Linked DNA regions of Homo sapiens. The protein of the gene in region 1 interacts with the protein of each later gene in a biochemical or structural test. Each region holds a gene or a part of one and is shown on either strand. Other genes may lie near its edges.

Evidence for each region.
Region 2: of the proteins of PTPN22 (region 1) and LCK, one has a biochemical effect on the other in vitro, tested with the Homo sapiens proteins (3 studies listed by IntAct, with this or other methods).
Region 3: the proteins of PTPN22 (region 1) and ZAP70 form a complex in vitro, tested with the Homo sapiens proteins (one study listed by IntAct).

What each region holds. Positions count from the first base shown.
Region 1 is NC_000001.11:113,868,677-113,875,522, forward strand, and holds the start of PTPN22 (tyrosine-protein phosphatase non-receptor type 22), read right to left. Parts: upstream 3,037-6,846; 5' UTR 2,948-3,036; coding exon 2,861-2,947; intron 1-2,860. UniProt on the Homo sapiens protein: Acts as a negative regulator of T-cell receptor (TCR) signaling by direct dephosphorylation of the Src family kinases LCK and FYN, ITAMs of the TCRz/CD3 complex, as well as ZAP70, VAV, VCP and other key signaling molecules.
Region 2 is NC_000001.11:32,246,448-32,254,300, forward strand, and holds the start of LCK (tyrosine-protein kinase Lck), read left to right. Parts: upstream 1-4,817; 5' UTR 4,818-4,924; intron 4,925-7,853. Other genes in the region: protein FAM167B, read left to right, coding at 975-1,235, 1,924-2,154. UniProt on the Homo sapiens protein: Non-receptor tyrosine-protein kinase that plays an essential role in the selection and maturation of developing T-cells in the thymus and in the function of mature T-cells. Plays a key role in T-cell antigen receptor (TCR)-linked signal transduction pathways.
Region 3 is NC_000002.12:97,737,576-97,740,396, reverse strand, and holds the end of ZAP70 (tyrosine-protein kinase ZAP-70), read right to left. Parts: coding exon 2,732-2,821; intron 2,641-2,731; coding exon 2,500-2,640; intron 2,403-2,499; coding exon 2,290-2,402; intron 2,097-2,289; exon of another isoform or gene 1,888-2,096; intron 1,023-1,887; coding exon 899-1,022; 3' UTR 537-898; downstream 1-536. UniProt on the Homo sapiens protein: Tyrosine kinase that plays an essential role in regulation of the adaptive immune response. Regulates motility, adhesion and cytokine expression of mature T-cells, as well as thymocyte development.

The DNA of each region.
Region 1 (6,846 bases):
TTAATATAAAAGTCAGGATAGTGATTATCCCTTGGCCAGGGTAGGACAGGACAGGGGCAGATGGGTGTAGGGGACCTGATGGGGCATGGGTCTTCGGGGGTCTGACAGTTTCTTGACTTGGGTAGTGGTTGCACTGCTAATGGTTGCTTTATAATTATACTTAAATGTTTTATGTACTTTTCTAAATGTGTATTATATTGCACAATATTAAGCAGCTAAAAAAAACTATAACAAGTTTTTAAGCAGGGAAAAAATGACCAGATTTGGCTGGGCGTGGTGGCTCATGCCTATAATCCTAGTACTTTGGGAGGCTGAGGCGAGTGGATTACCTGGTTGGACAGACCAGCCTGGCCAACATGGTGGAACCTTGTCTCTACTAAAAATACAAAATTAGCCAGGCGTGGTGGCTCATGCCTGTAATCCCAGCTACTTGGGAGGCTGAGGCAGGAAAATCGCTTGAACCAGGGAGGTGGAGGCTGCAGTGAGCCGAGATGGTGTCATTGCATTCCAGCCTGGGTGACAAGAGCAAAACTTTGTCGCCCCCAAAAAAAAGACCAGATTTGTATGATTAAAAGATCACTTGGGTGTTGAACTGAAAATTGACTGAAGGTGGGGCAAGGCTAGAGGCAGAGAAGCCAGTTAGGAGGTAGCTGCTATATTTTGGTGAGAAATTATAATGACTTTAGCTGAGAAAAGGTAAAATATTAGGGATATAGTCTACATTTTTTTTTTTTTGAGACAGAAGTTCGCTCTTGTTGTCCAGGCTGGAGTGCAACAGCTCTATCTCAGTTCACTGCAACCTCTGCCTCCCGAGTTTAAGCGATTCTCCTGTGTCAACCTCTTGAGTAGCTAGGATTACAGGTGCCTGCCACCACGCCCAGCTAATTTTTGTATTTTTAGTAGAAATGGGGTTTCATTATGTTGGCCAGGATGGTCTCAAACTCCTGACCTCAGGTGATCCACCCGCCTCGGCCTCCCAAAGTGCTGGGTTTACAGGTGTGAGCCACTGCCCCCGGCCAGTCTACATTATTTTAAAAAACACAACCAAAATAAAACAGAGGCCGGCACTGCCCCTCAGCTCACTTTTTACATCTATGCCTTGGGTTACCTTGGCTTAGGAATTATAGTCCAGGGGCAGGGACATGTATACACATGTGCTAGAACTTCCTACTTATCTCCTTTCAGGTAACTCTACCAGAGGGGCTCAGACTGATCAGCCAGTGGCAGTGAGAGCACATTTTTCATAGTACCACAAGATTATCCATGTTGAGCTGACATCGGAGTTCCTATCATAATATCTAATCACTCAATAATATCTAATTACTCAAGACTTTCAGAGTGTTTTCACATCTGCTATCCGGTACCAGAGTGTTAGCTCCAGGAGGCAAAGGTTTTGGTTCTTTTTGTTCACCGCTGTATTTTTAGTGCTTAGAACTGAACTTGGTACATACTAAGTGCTCAATAAATGGTACTCAATAAATGACCACATTTAATGATTGTTATTGATATTTAATCATCACAACAATCCTGTGAGGATAGGTAGGACATGTATTATTATCCCCATTTTATAAGTTAGAAAACAGAGAGATTTAAGAACATGTCAAATACTTCATAATTTGGTGAAAAAAAATCATGATTTAATTTCAGGTTTGTACTTCAGTTCCCCTCTTTCCACCCATTTCTTCACAACTGAAGAGCTAAGGTTTAAAATTCTTATATCTCTGAAACGCCAGCTGTAAGCATTCTAAAATACATGATAGGTACTATTAGACACCCTATGTTATCTGATATCTCAGCTTGTAGGGTGAATGAGGCCTACCCAGCTGCCATTGCATCAATAATCACAGTTCTCTCAAAGGAGATTCACTGTTCTTCTGGGTAATCTAATCCACCCAACCTGAAGCTACCTTGTACTCATGTTTCTCTCCTTGACCTACACTTGTCTCTACTCTCCATCCTAGCCATTCCACTTCTCCAAGCAAAAGAAGTTAAGGAAGCCCTGTTATTGAAAAAACACATGTTATAATATATTTTTCATATGAAAAAGAAAAGAAAAATGATGGCCAGACATAGTGGTTCATGCCTGTAATCCCAGCACTTTGGGAGGCAAGATGGGAGGATTGCTTGAAGCCAGGAGTTCGAGACAAGCCTGGGCAAAAAAGCAAGGCTCGTATCTACAAAAAAGAAAAAAACAATTTTTTTTTAAATTAGCCAGGCATGGCGATACACACCTGTGGCCCCAGCTACTCAGGAGGCTGAGGCAAGAGAATCACTTGAGGCCAGGAGTTCAAGGCTACAGTGAGCTGTGGTTGCACTGCTGCACTCCAGCCTGGGTGACAGAGTAAGATTCTGAATCTTAAAAAAACAAACAACAACAACAAAAAAAACTGTGGCAGTGGGTAGTTTTGGTGCTCTTCAAAAACCTTTGTCAACCAAATAGAATCCCAGAGGGGAGGCTAAAAATGTAATATTGCATGAAAAGTTAACATTGGTCTCTTTCTTCTTAATATTAATTAAAATTAGTAATATAAAGCATAAACCACAACTTAGATACCTGGGGAAATCTGGATGTTCAATTAATATTAGTGTTTTTACATCTGGAGTTGTATATGTCTTCTGTAGGATTCCTAACCAAACTCCAAAGAACTAGCAAACAAAATATTAAAACCAGTAATTTTGAGAGAATACCTGAAATACATGCAAACCACTCAGAGAAGTCAAACTTTTTTTTTTCTGTCTTCCCCGCCAAGGTCTCATATTTACTTTATCCCAAGAGCAATTTGGTCTCGGAAAATTGGACCCCCATAGTCAGTTAAATAGTGTATGTAACTACCCTGAGAGGGTCACATACAGGACTCACCAGAAATTCATTGGCAAACTCCTCTTTAGTAATTTTCTTGCTTTGGGCCTCATCCAGGAACTTCTGCAGAATTTCTCTTTGGTCCATGCTGCAGAGCAAGAAAAATAGTCTATAAGTAGGTTGAGGGAGGGCATGTCAAATGTGTGTCATGGCCGAGACACCTCCAAAAAGCCACTGCTGCCGCCTGAGCAGAGCATGCTGAAGGCTGTGGTTTACTGACTTCATCACAAGCCCTAGAGGAAATTAGTACGTAACCACCTTCTGTGGTCACATAACACAGCCATCATCTCACTCCAGGGCCCTAGTGCCTTCCTTCTCAGCAAAGGAACCTGGTTACAATTCAAATTTTTAACAAACAAGAGGCTAACTAGAACGTAAAGTGTGGTCTGCTTAACTGAGATTATTCCATTCCATCACCCATATGCAAAACTCACCTTTCTTCTTGCCTCCCAGAGAAAGAACAGAATTACAGGTCTCCTGAATGAGTTCTGTCTCTCCCCATTTTCCCAGTGAGCACAAGGGCCAAGTTGACACCTTCTGTTTCCTTATGTCCCAAATGAACTCTGCAAAGTTCAGTTAGGCCCAGGAAAGAAGACAGACACTGTTTAGAGTGAGTGACATGTCTTCTACCCGGACTGTTCATCGAAAGGTTTCTTGTCAGTGTGATCAATGAGAAACTTCTGTTCATCACAGAAGGTATTTTTATTCATAACTTTTAAGTCTGCTATATATACCTCAAACTCCCTTTTGAATGAAGCAAAGTCAGATGCTTCTGACAGTCTGTGTCTCTCCCAGGACTGGGGAAGTGCTGACCTCCATTAAGGGAAGTGTTGATTTCAGCACCTCTTCAACCCTCCCAGTAACCTTTGAAGCTTCACTTGGGTTCTGGATATAAAGACTAAGAGTGTTGGTCTATATAGGATCTAGAGCAAGTGGCCCCCACAAGGAGCACCTGACCAGACAGTTAGCTCAATACCCTGCATATGTAATGCTGGTAAACTGTGATGGAACAAAAAGAAAGTAAAATCAACCACCTTGCTGACAACATTGTAACTTTTAGGGCAGAAAGCCTGAAGAACTGTTTCTAAAGAACACATTTCTACTCTGCAACCAATGTCTTAGGAAATAAATTTGTTTCAGGAAGTTATGCTGTGCCTGTGGCATTTTGGCCCTGAAAGGCAGGCTCTTCTAGAAAAACTTTCCACATTTGAGCTTGCATAACCTCTCAATGGGTACAAGTCTACCCAAGTGCCTAATTCAGTGTGAGAACATCCAAAAATCAGTATATCATCTTTATTGAAGGCAGAAGTTCAACAAATGTTAACAAAATTAGTCTTGATCCTGAAGAAAACTGGGAAATGTGTTGTTAGGACTTCCTCTATTTAAGATATTAGCAATCCTTTCTGTTTTGCAACATTATTCAAACTTCCTTCAGGATATCATGATTCTGAACACTGCTTAATCTGAACATTAAAGATACTGCATGCTCTTTACTAAGTACTGCAAAAAAAAAAGAAAGATCATCGAGATATCTTGGTTATAGACAACTTAAAGACAATATTTCAAATTAAGAAACTCAATCCCAGTATACATAAATTAAAATAAACCCTCATTCTTCAGCAATATTTGTTAGGAATAGTATATTTCTTAAATTATCCCCATCTAGAATTAAGAGAGAATTTCTTGCTGCTCTAAGTAACGTGATGTTTACTTTGGCTATTTTAAAACATAAAATATGGGAAATCTTTGATTTATAAAAATACAAAATTTCAAGTTTGTAATAACTAAAACCATGTAAAAGTGTGTACATAGTTAAAGACTAAAAGAAGCAAAAAAGAATCAATTGTGTAAGTTTGCTTTCTAAAATTATCATAATTTTAGAATTATGATAAAGTTTGCTTTCTAAAATTATCATACCGTTTTTAAAATTAGAAATAAACATTTAAAAATCCATTAAGTTGTTCAACAAATTTATTGAGTACCCACTAAATTCTAAACATTGTCTTAGGAGATTGGCATACAACACTGAGAAAGCCAGAATATGGTAAAAACAAAACAAAACAAAACAAAAACATCCTTAGCCAGTTAATAAAGCAACTCAGAACTAAAGATACAGACATGATTACTGATAAAAATTAAAACACTCCTTAGGTAACTTTGGGAAAGAAAATAAAAATAAAAACATTCCAAACTAACTTGCTTAATTGCAGAGTAGCAAAGCATAATCCTAAAAGGAAAATGATTTTCTATGTTTGGACAAAGAAGATAATATAGTTTTATAATTTCTCTGTACCCTTAGAATGTCCTCAATTACACAAAACTAGAACTTTATTAATTTTTATTAATTGATGAGGCAAACCTGCCTAATAAAATTTAAATCTATTTTTCTCAAGCCTATATTTCAGCACAATCTCTTACTAACTTTCTTGTTTCTTCTTAATGAGGGAGAAGACAGAAATAAATAGGAGATAACAAAAAAAATTTTGCTTAGATGCCTCCATAGTCCCTTTCCTCAAAATCTAAGAATCTGTAAATAGTGTCTTGGCAGAACTTCACACTTTTTTAAAAAAGCAAGCAGCAATCTATTCTACTGTAAACCCAAAAGGTATAGAGACATTGTGAAATAACCAAACCCCCAAAACCCACTTAGCTACAAGGCCATTTCCTGAGCAGACCACTCAAGCAAGCAAAAAACAAACTGAAGAAGAAAACAAAAAACTTTAATTATTTTTTTTGTTTTGGGTTTTTTTGTTTGTTTGTTTGTTTTGTTTTGAGACAGGGTCTTGCTATGTTACCCAGACTAGTCTGGAACTCCTGGGCTCAAGTGATCCTTCCACTTCAGACTTCCAAGTAGCTGGAGCTATTATTTTTTTTTTAAAAAAATAAGCTACTACTTAATTTATCACACTTCCTTCTACAGAGCACAATGCTTTTTGATGAAGATTGTGTTGACTCATTTGTATCTTGCGGGAAGATAAAGAGCTGGGGAGGGGAAACAAGACATGCAGTAAAGGTTGGCAAATACCTAAAAGAGTTTCAGAATTTATGATGAATCATTTAAACCAGTCTGGCATAAAACCTAAGTGAACACAATTCCATGCAATAAAAAAAGACTCACAAACATTTTGCCAGAACCATCAAGTAAATTGTGGGAAGTAAATTGTGGATAAGCACCTGAAGAGGAGTGACAAGGCCACATCTCACTGCTGCCTCATGTGGCTGTAGTGCTTGGTCAGAAGGAAGAACACAACAGAGAAGAGTGCTGGTCACCATGTCACCTGTTCCAAGAAGAGGGGAGTATGCTAGTTTAAGGGGAAATATCAGTATCACAGAGGTCAGGAATTAGATTACAATAAACATTAATTGAGGAGAATTTCAGGGAAGACTACAAGGGTAAGATAAACTATTCAATAGGAAAAACATTCAGGATTCTCAGAACATCCTTCTGTCTTTTAGATGAGGGGGAGACATGTTTTACCCTGGAGAAGATACTTACCCAACCTTAGCTTTAGTTTCACTACTCTTGCCTTTCCCTACATTCCAGGGTCATTGATTTGATATGGGATATATATACTGTCTGTGAAACATTCAGTCCTTTGTAAGCATTCTTTTGATCACCAAGGCCTATTGGAAATTTCTCCTCAATGTCTTTTAGATTCAACCTGTCTTTTCCATTCCCACTTAGCCCCATTCCCACTTTCACACCCGGATTCCTATAGCAATAAACTTAGAGTATCTTCCTATCTATATGTTTCCATTCTAGTATCTCCTGTTAACCAAGGCTGGATGAAAGTTCTTAAAACTGCACTTTAATGCTAAAGAATCAGAATAGTTATTGATGATCTACGGGAACAAGTCCAGATTCCTTAGCTTGTCACCAAGCCCCTCCCTGTCAACTATCCCCACCCAACCTATCCAAGCACATCACCTACAGACCTCGTTCGTTCTACTACCACTTTTTTCTACTTCTCACCTTTACCCCTAAG
Region 2 (7,853 bases), about 82 Mb from region 1:
CCCGGGTTCAAGCGATTCTCTTGCCTCAGCCTCCCAAGTAGCTGGGACTACAGATGCATGCTACCACACTCGGCTAATTTTTTGTATTTTTAGTAGAGACGGGGTTTCACCGTGTTAGCCAGGATGGTCTTAAACTCCTGACTTCGTGATCCGCCCACCTCGGCTTCCCAAAGTGCAGGGATTACAGGCGTGAGCCACTGCACCTGTCCTTCTGTGTGTATGTTATGTTTGAAAACAAAGTTTAAAAAAGGGAACTGCTCTGGTTGAAGCCCTGGGAGGGGCAGGGAGATGGAAGGCAAGGAGCCCATCCACAGCTCTGTCCTTCTCCTGCAGGCAGCCCTTGAGGGCTCCTTAGAGTATTAGCTTGAAATCCTTCATCTGTCCCAACAGAGCTCTGAGAAGGTCAGTGACTTGCCCAAGGTTCTGCAGAGCCAGCACTAGAACTCAGGTCTCCTGACTCCCAGGCCAGGGCCCTGGAGGCTAGTCCTTTCCTGAAGGGCTGGTGTCACGAGTAAGGACAAGGGGTGGCTAGGCAGCCTCCTTCCTGATCTCAGCTCCCTTAACATGAGTCTTGGGAGGAGGGCCAAGACTCTGGTATGAATGATGCTTTTCTCATCCTGGAGCAACTTCCTTTCTGGGAATTGGGTGTCTCCTTCTGGGCAAAGACAATAAAATTCATCCAAAGGGCCAGAGGAGCAGGGTTCCTCCGGCCCCCACCCAGATGGGCATCACGTGGCTCCCAAGTTAGCAGTCCAGGAAAATTCCAGCCCTTGCATACTTGGCCTCACACACCCATCTGCTCACTCACCCTGGCACATTCAGCCCCCCTAACCCACCTTGAACATTGACCACCACACACTCCCTGGCACGCTCTTCTCACCCTCAACTTCTGCCACCTCTCCCTGGGCAATACTGCCAGCCTTTCCCTAATCTCAGAGCTGCAGCCCTGCCCTGTCACTCACCTCAAACCTGCCATGTCCCTGGGGCTACTGAAATTCCAGGCAGTGGGTGAAGAGGACGAGGAGGATGAGGAGGGGGAGAGCCTGGACTCTGTGAAGGCACTGACAGCCAAGCTGCAGCTGCAGACTCGGCGGCCCTCATATCTGGAGTGGACAGCCCAGGTCCAGAGCCAGGCCTGGCGCAGGGCCCAAGCCAAACCTGGACCAGGGGGACCTGGGGACATCTGTGGTTTCGACTCAATGGACTCCGCCCTTGAGTGGCTCCGACGGGAGCTGGTGAGTCTGGTGGGGTGGGCAGCTTTGCCCAGGGCCTTCAGGCTGGTCCTCCTTAGGGTCCAAGACCACAGGCATGGGGAAGGGATGAGAATGGACCCTGCCTCCAGCAACCGCCCGCTCCGGTGTCCTGGGCTGAGGAGCCGGGAATGGACTTGTCCAGTGTTGTATTCAGGGAGGCTTGCTGAAGAAGGATTCCATCCAATCTACTGACCTTGTGCTCCTGTTGCTTAGGGGACAGAGCACTGGTGTTGGGGGGTGTGGGGCACCATTATAAATAGGGAAATACACAGCCTCCCCTACTCTGGGACTTTCTATGGCCTAAAGATACAGCGAAGTGCAAAAGGAGGCACTGGCCATGCTGCAGGCAGATTCTGAAGAGGTGAAGTTTCAGTAGGTGGCTCCCAACTCAACATGTGCAAATATAAAGATACCCAGGCTCCAACACAGAGATTCTGCTTAGTTGATTTGGGATGGGGCCCAGGCAGTTGGATTTGCTTAATAATGACTCCTTAGCTGGGTTTGAGAACCACCAGGTGAAGCCAGATTGGGAGATAGGGAGAGATCAAGCTGAGGTGAGAGGGGGCTGGGGAGGACACAGTCAGTGCAAAGGCCCAGCGTTGCCAGGAAGGGAGAAACGGCGCGCGGCCGAGGGCCTGTCCAGTAGGCTCACGCCCCCTCTCGGCCGCAGCGGGAGATGCAGGCGCAGGACAGGCAGCTGGCAGGGCAGCTGCTGCGGCTGCGGGCCCAGCTGCACCGACTGAAGATGGACCAAGCCTGTCACCTGCACCAGGAGCTGCTGGATGAGGCCGAGCTGGAGCTGGAGCTGGAGCCCGGGGCCGGCCTAGCCCTGGCCCCGCTGCTGCGGCACCTGGGCCTCACGCGCATGAACATCAGCGCCCGGCGCTTCACCCTCTGCTGAGGAACACCTGTGCCCCCCGACTCCCCGCCCCCTCTCCCAATGCCGCTTCCCCTGCCTGCCTGGGAAGAGGAAAGGGAGGGGTGCCCCAGAGGCACCAGCTCCTGGCGGGGGAGGAGGAACATTCAGGTTTCTGAGAGCTGAATTCCAAGAGTGCAAAACCCCAGCATCCTGTTTCCTCTGCTGACCCAGCTGGGAGGGGGAGGAGGAGGAGCTCACACCCTCAAACTCCTCAATAAACGCTTTCTCTGGTTCCCATCAAGGTCTCTTGCAGTCGTTTATTCAGGCCCAAGGCCGCTATCTGAATGTCGCCTGTCACTGGGACCACCCTAGTTCACTGCAGGCCCATGGGAGGTGACTTAGGTAAATTGGGCTCCTGAAGAATGCAGAATCTGAGAGACATGGGTTCAAAGCCAGCTACCCCGTTTATTTCTTTTTGTTGTTGTTATTTCTTCTGCTTCTTTTTTTTTTTTTTTTTTTGAGGCAGAGTCTCACTCTGTCACCCAGGCTGGAATGCAGTAGCACAATCTCAGCTCACTGCAACCTCCGCCTCCGGGGATCAAGCGATTCTCCTGCCTCAGCCTCCCAAGTAGCTGGGATTACAGGCGGCCACCACCTCGCCTGGCTAATTTCCTTTCTTTTCTTTTCTTTTTTTTTCTTTTTTTTGAGATGGAATTTCACTCTTTCGCCCAGGCTGGAGTAGTGGCGCGATCTTGGCTCACTGCAACCTCCACCTTCTGATTTCAAGCGATTCTCCTGCCTCAGCCTCCCAAGTAGCTGGGATTACAGGTGGCCACCACCTCGCCTAGCTAATTTCCTTTCTTTTCTTTTCTTTTTTTTTTCTTTTTTTTGAGATGGAATTTCACTCTTTCGCCCAGGCTGGAGTAGTGGCGCGATCTTGGCTCACTGCAACCTCCACCTTCCGATTTCAAGCGATTCTCCTGCCTCAGCCTCCCGAGTAGCTGGGATTATAGGCACCCGCCACCATGCCCGGCTAATTTTTGTATTTTTAATAGAGACAGGGTTTCAGCATGTTGGCCAGGCTGGTCTCAAACTCCTGACCTCAAGTGATCCACCTGCCTGGGGTTTCCAAAGTGCTAGGATTACAGGCCTGAGCCACCGTTTATTTCTATTCGACCCTGAGGAGCTCCCTTAACCCCTGAGTCTGTTTCCTCACCTCCACAATGGAGATGCTGATTCTCACTCCACAGGCAGCAGATGTGCCTTACGGGAGATAGTGCACAGTGAGCGCTCAGTGAATATGAACTATTACTCACTCCCAGCGCGGCAGTCTTTCTACTCTGTGCTGAGACAGGGAGATGGACCGTGAAGTGTTCAGGCTTACATTGCAAGGGAGTCTGGGCCCTGCACCAGGCTTGGAGCTCCAACTCTAGGCTCTGTGTCACTGTGAAGGTTTTTCACTTTGTCTCTCTCAGCCTTTGTTTCTGTGTTACCCTCTTTGTCTGACTTTCCAACTCAGGCTTCCTCTTCCCCCCACCTATTTCCTGCCCCCACTTCTCTCTGCAGCTGAGGTGCACACAGCATCGCTTCCACCTCACAAGCCCCAACAATGCTCTGTGGGTTCCCCTCCCCCTACCAGCTCACTCAGGCAGTGACGCATGTGCACTTTCCTCCTGGTGGGGTCAAGGCCGAGTTCTTGGACCTGATGAGGCCACCTGGAGTTCCTCATATCACTGGTGACCTGGCCCTCAGCTAATGATGGGTGCCCCCTCAGCCTGGCCCCAGGGGAAATGGAAATTCTTTGCCTGCCTGCTGCTCGTGACAATCTTCTTGCCTCCTGCTTATAACAGAAAGTCCTGACAGTCTGTGGCCTGCACCTGGGGGCCTGAGCGGCCCTGTTTGCTCTGTCTTCCACCTGTTGCAGGAGATAGTGCCAAGCCCTCCACCTCTGCCAGGGGCTGTGGCCTTGCCTCTACCTGAATTCGAACTGTTGCCCTACTCTCCAACCATGATTAATGGGTGTTGTCCTGGCCTCTGACTACAGCAGGGGCCGTTACTATGCCCTCTTGAAGACATGAGGTTGTCCTGTCTGCCTCCTGAAACAGGCTGTTTTCCAGCATTCTGTCTGTAAGAGGGATGGTAGCCTGCCATTCACCTACCCTTGACTATAATAAAGCTACTGTTCCATGCCCTGAGATGACATGGGAATTGTTCTCTCGGCCTGACCTGACTGTAACATGCATGGTCTGCTCACCAGCTATTTAACAGGGATATTGTCCTCTCCTCTGACTCTGAACGATGCTACCTTTGCTGCCAGACAGAAACAAAAGGGTCTCTCAGCTGCAACGGTGGTGCTGAGGTGCTGTTTGCCTCTCACCATAAGCTGAGTGTGTGTCCGCTTGCCCCCTGCTCACTGGGCCCAAAGGCTGCCCTTGAATCTCTTGCCCAGATGCACCCTGGAGGGCAGAAGGGAGGGTCTATCAGACATCCTCCCCTCAACTTTAAACCTCCCAGTGTCACCCTGGGACAGTAGGGGAAGATGGACCTGGTCTGGAGATGTAGGGGACCCCCAGGGGCTGAGAGGCAGGGGTCTATGGTGGCAGGAAGCTTGGCGTGCTAGAGGGTTGTGGTTGGGCTGCTGGGGCCCGGTTGGCTGCGGAGCCCTCCGGAGGAGGCAGGAAGTCAGGGTGGGACGTGGGCGCGGGGAGACAGGTGGTGGCTACGACGGCGAAGGGAGCTGAGACTGTCCAGGCAGCCAGGTTAGGCCAGGAGGACCATGTGAATGGGGCCAGAGGGCTCCCGGGCTGGGCAGGTAAGGAGCGCTGGTATTGGGGGCGCAGGCGCCGGGGTGAGAGGCCTGATAGCAGACGGCTGCAGCTGTGCGGGCCCAGGCTCCCTAGGGATGCAGCAGCCCTTTGTGGCTGGGGAGAGAAGATCCTCGCTCAAGGTCAGGTGGGAGGCAGGCAGTGTAGCTGGGTCGCCTCTTTCCTGCGAAGCTGGTGTCGCTTGCCTCTGTCGTGCTGTCCACCAGTGGCCCCACCTGACTGGGAGCGTGTTTCCTGGACACCAGGCACATGGACAGTCAGGTGTTAAAAAGGCTTCCAGAAACCACCAAGCCCAGTCCCTCAGGCCATGAGGATGAGGCTCCTGAGGCCCAGAGAGAACAAGGCACTCACTGCCCACGGTTTCTCAGCAAGGCAGTGGCAGGGCTGAGAGTGATGGCTGAGGCTGTGGCCACCCCGCCTGGAGCAGGGTGATGGACAGGCTGGACTCAGAGGACCCAGGAATCCTTCTGGTTTCTGGGGCAGACCCCAGTGACAAGAATCTCCTGAGAAAGAGAGAGAGAGAGAGAGAGAGAGAGAGAGAGAGAGAGAGAGACAGAGATCACCCAAGGCATCCAGATGGACATGCGAGGAGTGATTTTAGCCTCAGCGATCGAGGGAAGAATCTCCTGATGGGCGTGAACTGATATGTGTGGGGGTGTCCATCATCTGGGATGGAGCTCCAGGGTGGATGGACATATCTGATCTGAGTATGGGAAGTTGGAAGTGAAAGAGAATGATGGGAGAAAGGAAGAGGAAGTACTATTTTTATCCCAGACAGGGGTGCAGTTGGTCCTGGGTGAGGAAGCGCTGAACTTCCATCTGGAAAGTCACCATTCCTGCCCCTGCCAAGCGTCACAGCAGGATGTCCTCCCCTCGCCCCTGGCTCCCTCCCGCTTCAGCCCTGCCTGTGTAGGGCCAGTTGGTTTTGCTGATTCCTGCTTCAAACCCCAGGGAGGTGGAGAGAGACTGGGGAGGCATAGTTGCTACCTGCTCACCTCCTCACTTTTTAACTCTGAGCCTTAATTTTTTTGGGAAGTCCTCACTCAGCCAGATTTCCAGGTTTCCCCTGCTTCGTTGGAGTTTTTCTTGACACACACTTTCCGCCTAGTCAGCTGGTCCCAGCCTTTCTCCTGTCTACAGCTCCAAGTCCTGTAGCCTCTTGTGGGGGCTAGGGAACATGGTGGCTCTCCTCGCACTTCAGGGAGGGTCATTCACCCTGGACAGGCATGAGCAGTTCCTTCCACCCAGCCCTATGCTGACAGACGAATCAGACAGGGTCCCTTGCTCTTGGGCCCCAGGAACAGAGGCTCTTCTCAAAGAGAGAAGGGCCAAGTGGACAAGGGCCAAGAACAGGCTGAGCATTGGTTCAGAGGAGGGGAGAAGGTGTCTCTTAAGATCTGGAAAGCTTCCTGCAAGAGTCAAGACAGTTCTGAGAAGGAGAAAGACCCATTTTCAAGAGTGCGTAGGACATGAAGCCAAGGTCACTATCCCTGGATTCTGTTCCTTGGGTACCACGAGGGCAGAGACCTCAGAGCAAGACCAAAGGCCAGAGAGCCCACAGGTGTGGTGTGGAGCAGAGAATGTGCATTTCAGAGACAGGCCGACCCAGTCACAATTCCGCTGGACCATTTCCTTGAGCAAGTGGCTTCATCTCTCTCTCTGAGCTTCAGTTTACTTATCTGTAAAGAGGCAATAATCAAGCTGGGCACGGTGGCTCACACCTGTAATCCCAGCACTTTGGGAGGCTGAGGCGGGCAGATCATTTGAGGCCAGGAGCTTGAGACCAGGCTGGCCGACATGGTGAAACCCTGTCTTCGTTAAAAATGCAAAATTAGCCGAGCGTGGTGGCAGGTGCCTGTAATCCTAGCTACTCAGGGGGCTGAGGCAGAATTGCTTGAACCCGGGATGCACAGGTTGTAATGAGCAGAGATCGAGTCATTGCACTCCAGCCTAGGCAACAGAGCGAAACCCCATCTCAAACAAAAATGCCTCCCGGGTTCAAGTGATTCTCCTGCCTCAGCCTCCCAAGTGCTAGGATTAACAGGCGCGCCACCATGCCCAGCTAATTTTTGCATTTTTAGTAGAGATGGAGTTTCACTATATTGGCCAGGATGGTTTCGATCTCCTGACCTCGTGATCCGCCCACCTCGGCCCCCCAAAGTGCTGGGATTACAGGCATGAGCCACCGCACCTGGCCAGCACATAGTAGGTGTTTAAGGGAGGTGGGGCACTCCCTCCCCCTGCAAATGATGCACCAAAGGGAGGGCTGTCCACACCCAAATTATGCCCACTCAGCACCTTGGTGGGCCAGTGAACCACCCATTCCCTCACACTTGTGGTGTGGCTTTGCAAATCAGCCTGTTTCCTGTATACAGTGTGAGGAGTGTGAGAACTCAGGCAGGCTGGACTCTGAGCGGGGCCATGGGATCTACTTTAGAAGAGGGTCTCTCACGCAGCCACACACAGACACACACACACACACACACACACAAGCCAAAACACCATACATATCATGGGAAAATCTACGTGTACAGATGTGTTCAGAGGCAGGGCAGGGGCTACACATAAAACACAGACTACATCCTATAACTCCATGCACACACCCACGAGCTGATGGCTTCAAGGCCAAGCTCAATTCAGTGAAAGTAATTCTCAGTGGGGTGGGGTGGGGTAGGTGGTGAGGAGCAGGTGGGACCAAGGTACCATCCAGTAATGGGGCCTCTCACAATCAACCTCAGTGTTGATTTTAAAGTATCTGGAGCTAGGGGTTTGAGGCTGCAGTGAGCTGTGATCGCTCCACTGCACTCTGGCCTGGGTGACACAGCTAGATTCTGTCTCTAAAAAATAAACACGGCAGAGTGCAGTGGCTCACGCCTGTAATCCCAGCACTTTGGGAGGCCAAAGCAGGTGGATCAC
Region 3 (2,821 bases), on another chromosome or scaffold:
CACTAAATTGATGCAATTTGTCTTAATTCGTTCATTAGCTTTTAAAACAATTAATTTAAAAACAATGTTTGCATTTTGGTATTTTTCAGATTCAAATTCAGTAATACGGTTCATACGGGAGCTAATACGTGCATCTACCAATGAAAAGCATTGTATCTCATGATTTGCAAGGCACCCCTGGGGGGGTGAAGACCCCAGCTGGATGGGGGAGGGGGGGTTAGCGTTTGTTAAAATAGCTCCAGGTGATCCTAACGTGCACCTGGCATGGGGCACACTCATCTCCACACAGGGGAGCTGGGCTCAGCCAGGCACGCAGCCCTTGGGCCCACACCCGCCTGGCCTCAGGTTCCCCACTCCACCCCAGCCGCTCACTCACATGAAGGTGTCCCTAGGGTGGAGAGTGGGACCCAGCCCCATCTTCCCAGGGGTCACTTCCAGGCTCAGTCCACACAAGAACAGTCACCTCCATGCACTTTTCATAACCCACCCCTCCCCTGACACCTACCCTCACCCCGGAAAAGATGAGGGCGCTCAGACAAGAGGGAAGCTGGGTTTATTCTGGTGATCTACGCCTGACCACCTGAGGATGCCCAGGCTCCAATGTCAGGGCCCAGGGGAAGGCATCCGTGTAAGCAATGCCCTCAGCTCAGGGCCCTCCGGGAGCCACCAGCCCAGGACAGGCTGCACAGCCGCACCCTCCCGGACCTCCCTGCTCCCCAGCCAGAGAGGACAGGGGGCCAGGCAGGCAATGCAAGGCCGGTGTGGCCTGAGACACCCCCTACCACAGCCCAGCTGTGTGTGGAGACAACCAAGCAGGGCTCAGCCAGACTGCAGGACCTGGGGTGGGGCTGAGGGTGGGGAAGAGCCGGCGTGGAGGGCTCCCCTGGGCAGCGGGAGCTCAGGCACAGGCAGCCTCAGCCTTCTGTGTGCTGCCTGGGGGCCCTTCCACCTTGCTGGCCAGGCTGTAGTAACAGGCTCGCATGCGCTGCTCCACGGTCAGGAAGTCGGGGCGATCCTCCCACCTGTGGGGCGTGGGGTACATCCAGGCTGCTGACCACGCCCCCAGGACCCAGCTTCACCAGTGGGTGGGCATGCACTGTGCTTGGCTGAGGTAGACTTTTGGGGCTCAGAAAGTCAGCAGGGCTGTTGGGGTGGCGGGACATTGGGTGGTGGAGAGGACTCTGGGGTGTGAGAGCGTTGGGCAATGCCACACAGCCTAAGGAGGCAGAGCTGCCCACACACAGGGTGCTGGGATGACCCCTCTACCGAGCGTTGACCAGTGAGGACTCAGGGGACTGAGTGGACTTGGTGTCAGAGTGGCAACTATTGACCACGGGGACCTGGGATATAGAAAGCTGATGCTCTGTGCATGCACCTGGGGCCAGGGTATCAGTGTGCTGGGGCTTAGATGAGAGGGAGTGCAAGGCTGGTGATCAGCAGAAGCCTGGAGCATGGCAGTGGGTCTGGCCAGCGGGGAGCGGCAGTATTAACGGTACTGTGCATGGGGTATCCATGGACTGTGTTGGGGTGCTAGGTGCTAGCCTCTTTGGGTACTGGGGTGTGGTGCCCTGGGTGTTTCCTGATGGAGGTGGAATTAACACATGTCGCAGGAGGGTGGGCCAGCCAGAGAGGGTGTCTATCTGTTGGGCTGCTTGGGTGTTGGGGTGTCAGCATGCTAAGTGCTGGCCGGTGGGGGGTCATGCGTTACAGTGTCCACACATTGCATGGGCAGTCTAGGGCGTCCGCTTGTCTGGGGGTGTGTTGCCTGTTGTCTGATGGGAAGTTGGGATACTGATGGTGTTAGGAGTTGAGATGTCTGAAGGTTGGGCTTCAACCAGGCAGAGGTGGGGGCTGGAATAGATGAGTATTTGGTACCTCAGTGCTCACCTGTCTGGTAGTTGGGTGCTGTGTGCTGGCTGGTGGGGACTGGAGTGTTGGGTACTGGAGAATCATCTCATGCCCTGAGTGTCAGTGTCATAGGTTGAGTAGCAGAGTATGGACCTGTTTGCGTGTTGCAGGGTCCATGTGTTGAGTGATGGCTGAGGTTTTAGATGCTGAGGCACAGGCCCACAGGTGGGATGGCAGGGTGTGGCACACTGGAGCAGGACAGCAAACCCTGGTGTGTTGGAGAGCTGGGTGTGGGGGTAGGGGGCAGCTGCAAAGGCTATGAACTGGGTGAAGGGCTTTGGGTGAGATGACATTGGGTAGAGTTATATTGACATCAACTCATCGGGCACCAGGACTTTCCAGGGGTCAGCCCAGCCGGGTCCCCTCCCCACTGGCACTCACTTGTAGATCCAGCAGTCACTCATGAGTGCGTACAGTTCGGGTGGACACTCTGGTGGGCACTCCATCCGCTTGCCCTGCTCGATGAAGGCCATGACCTCCGGCCCTTTCATCTTCTGCTCAAGCCGGGGCAGAGACACCTGTGAGTGACCAGTGTCCTCCTCCTCATCCCCCTCCCCACCACACCGCCCACCTGCCTCTGCCCGCGCCTGCCTTGTAGGGCTTCTGGCCGTAGGACAAGGCCTCCCACATGGTGACCCCATAGCTCCAGACATCGCTGCGGCTGGAGAACTTGCGGAAGTTGATGCATTCGGGTGCGTACCACTTGAGCGGCCACTTCCCTGCTGAGCGGGCCTGGGGAGGGGGAGATGCTGCTGGATCAGGGGTCAGGGACCCTCTACCCACCCAGCCCATCCAGTCGGGCATCACAGGGGCAGAGGCTTACAGTGTAGTAGCTGTCGTCGGCACCCAGTGCTTTGGAGAGGCCAAAGTCGCTGATCTTGGCGTAGTGCCGGTTAACCAGCAGGACGTTGCG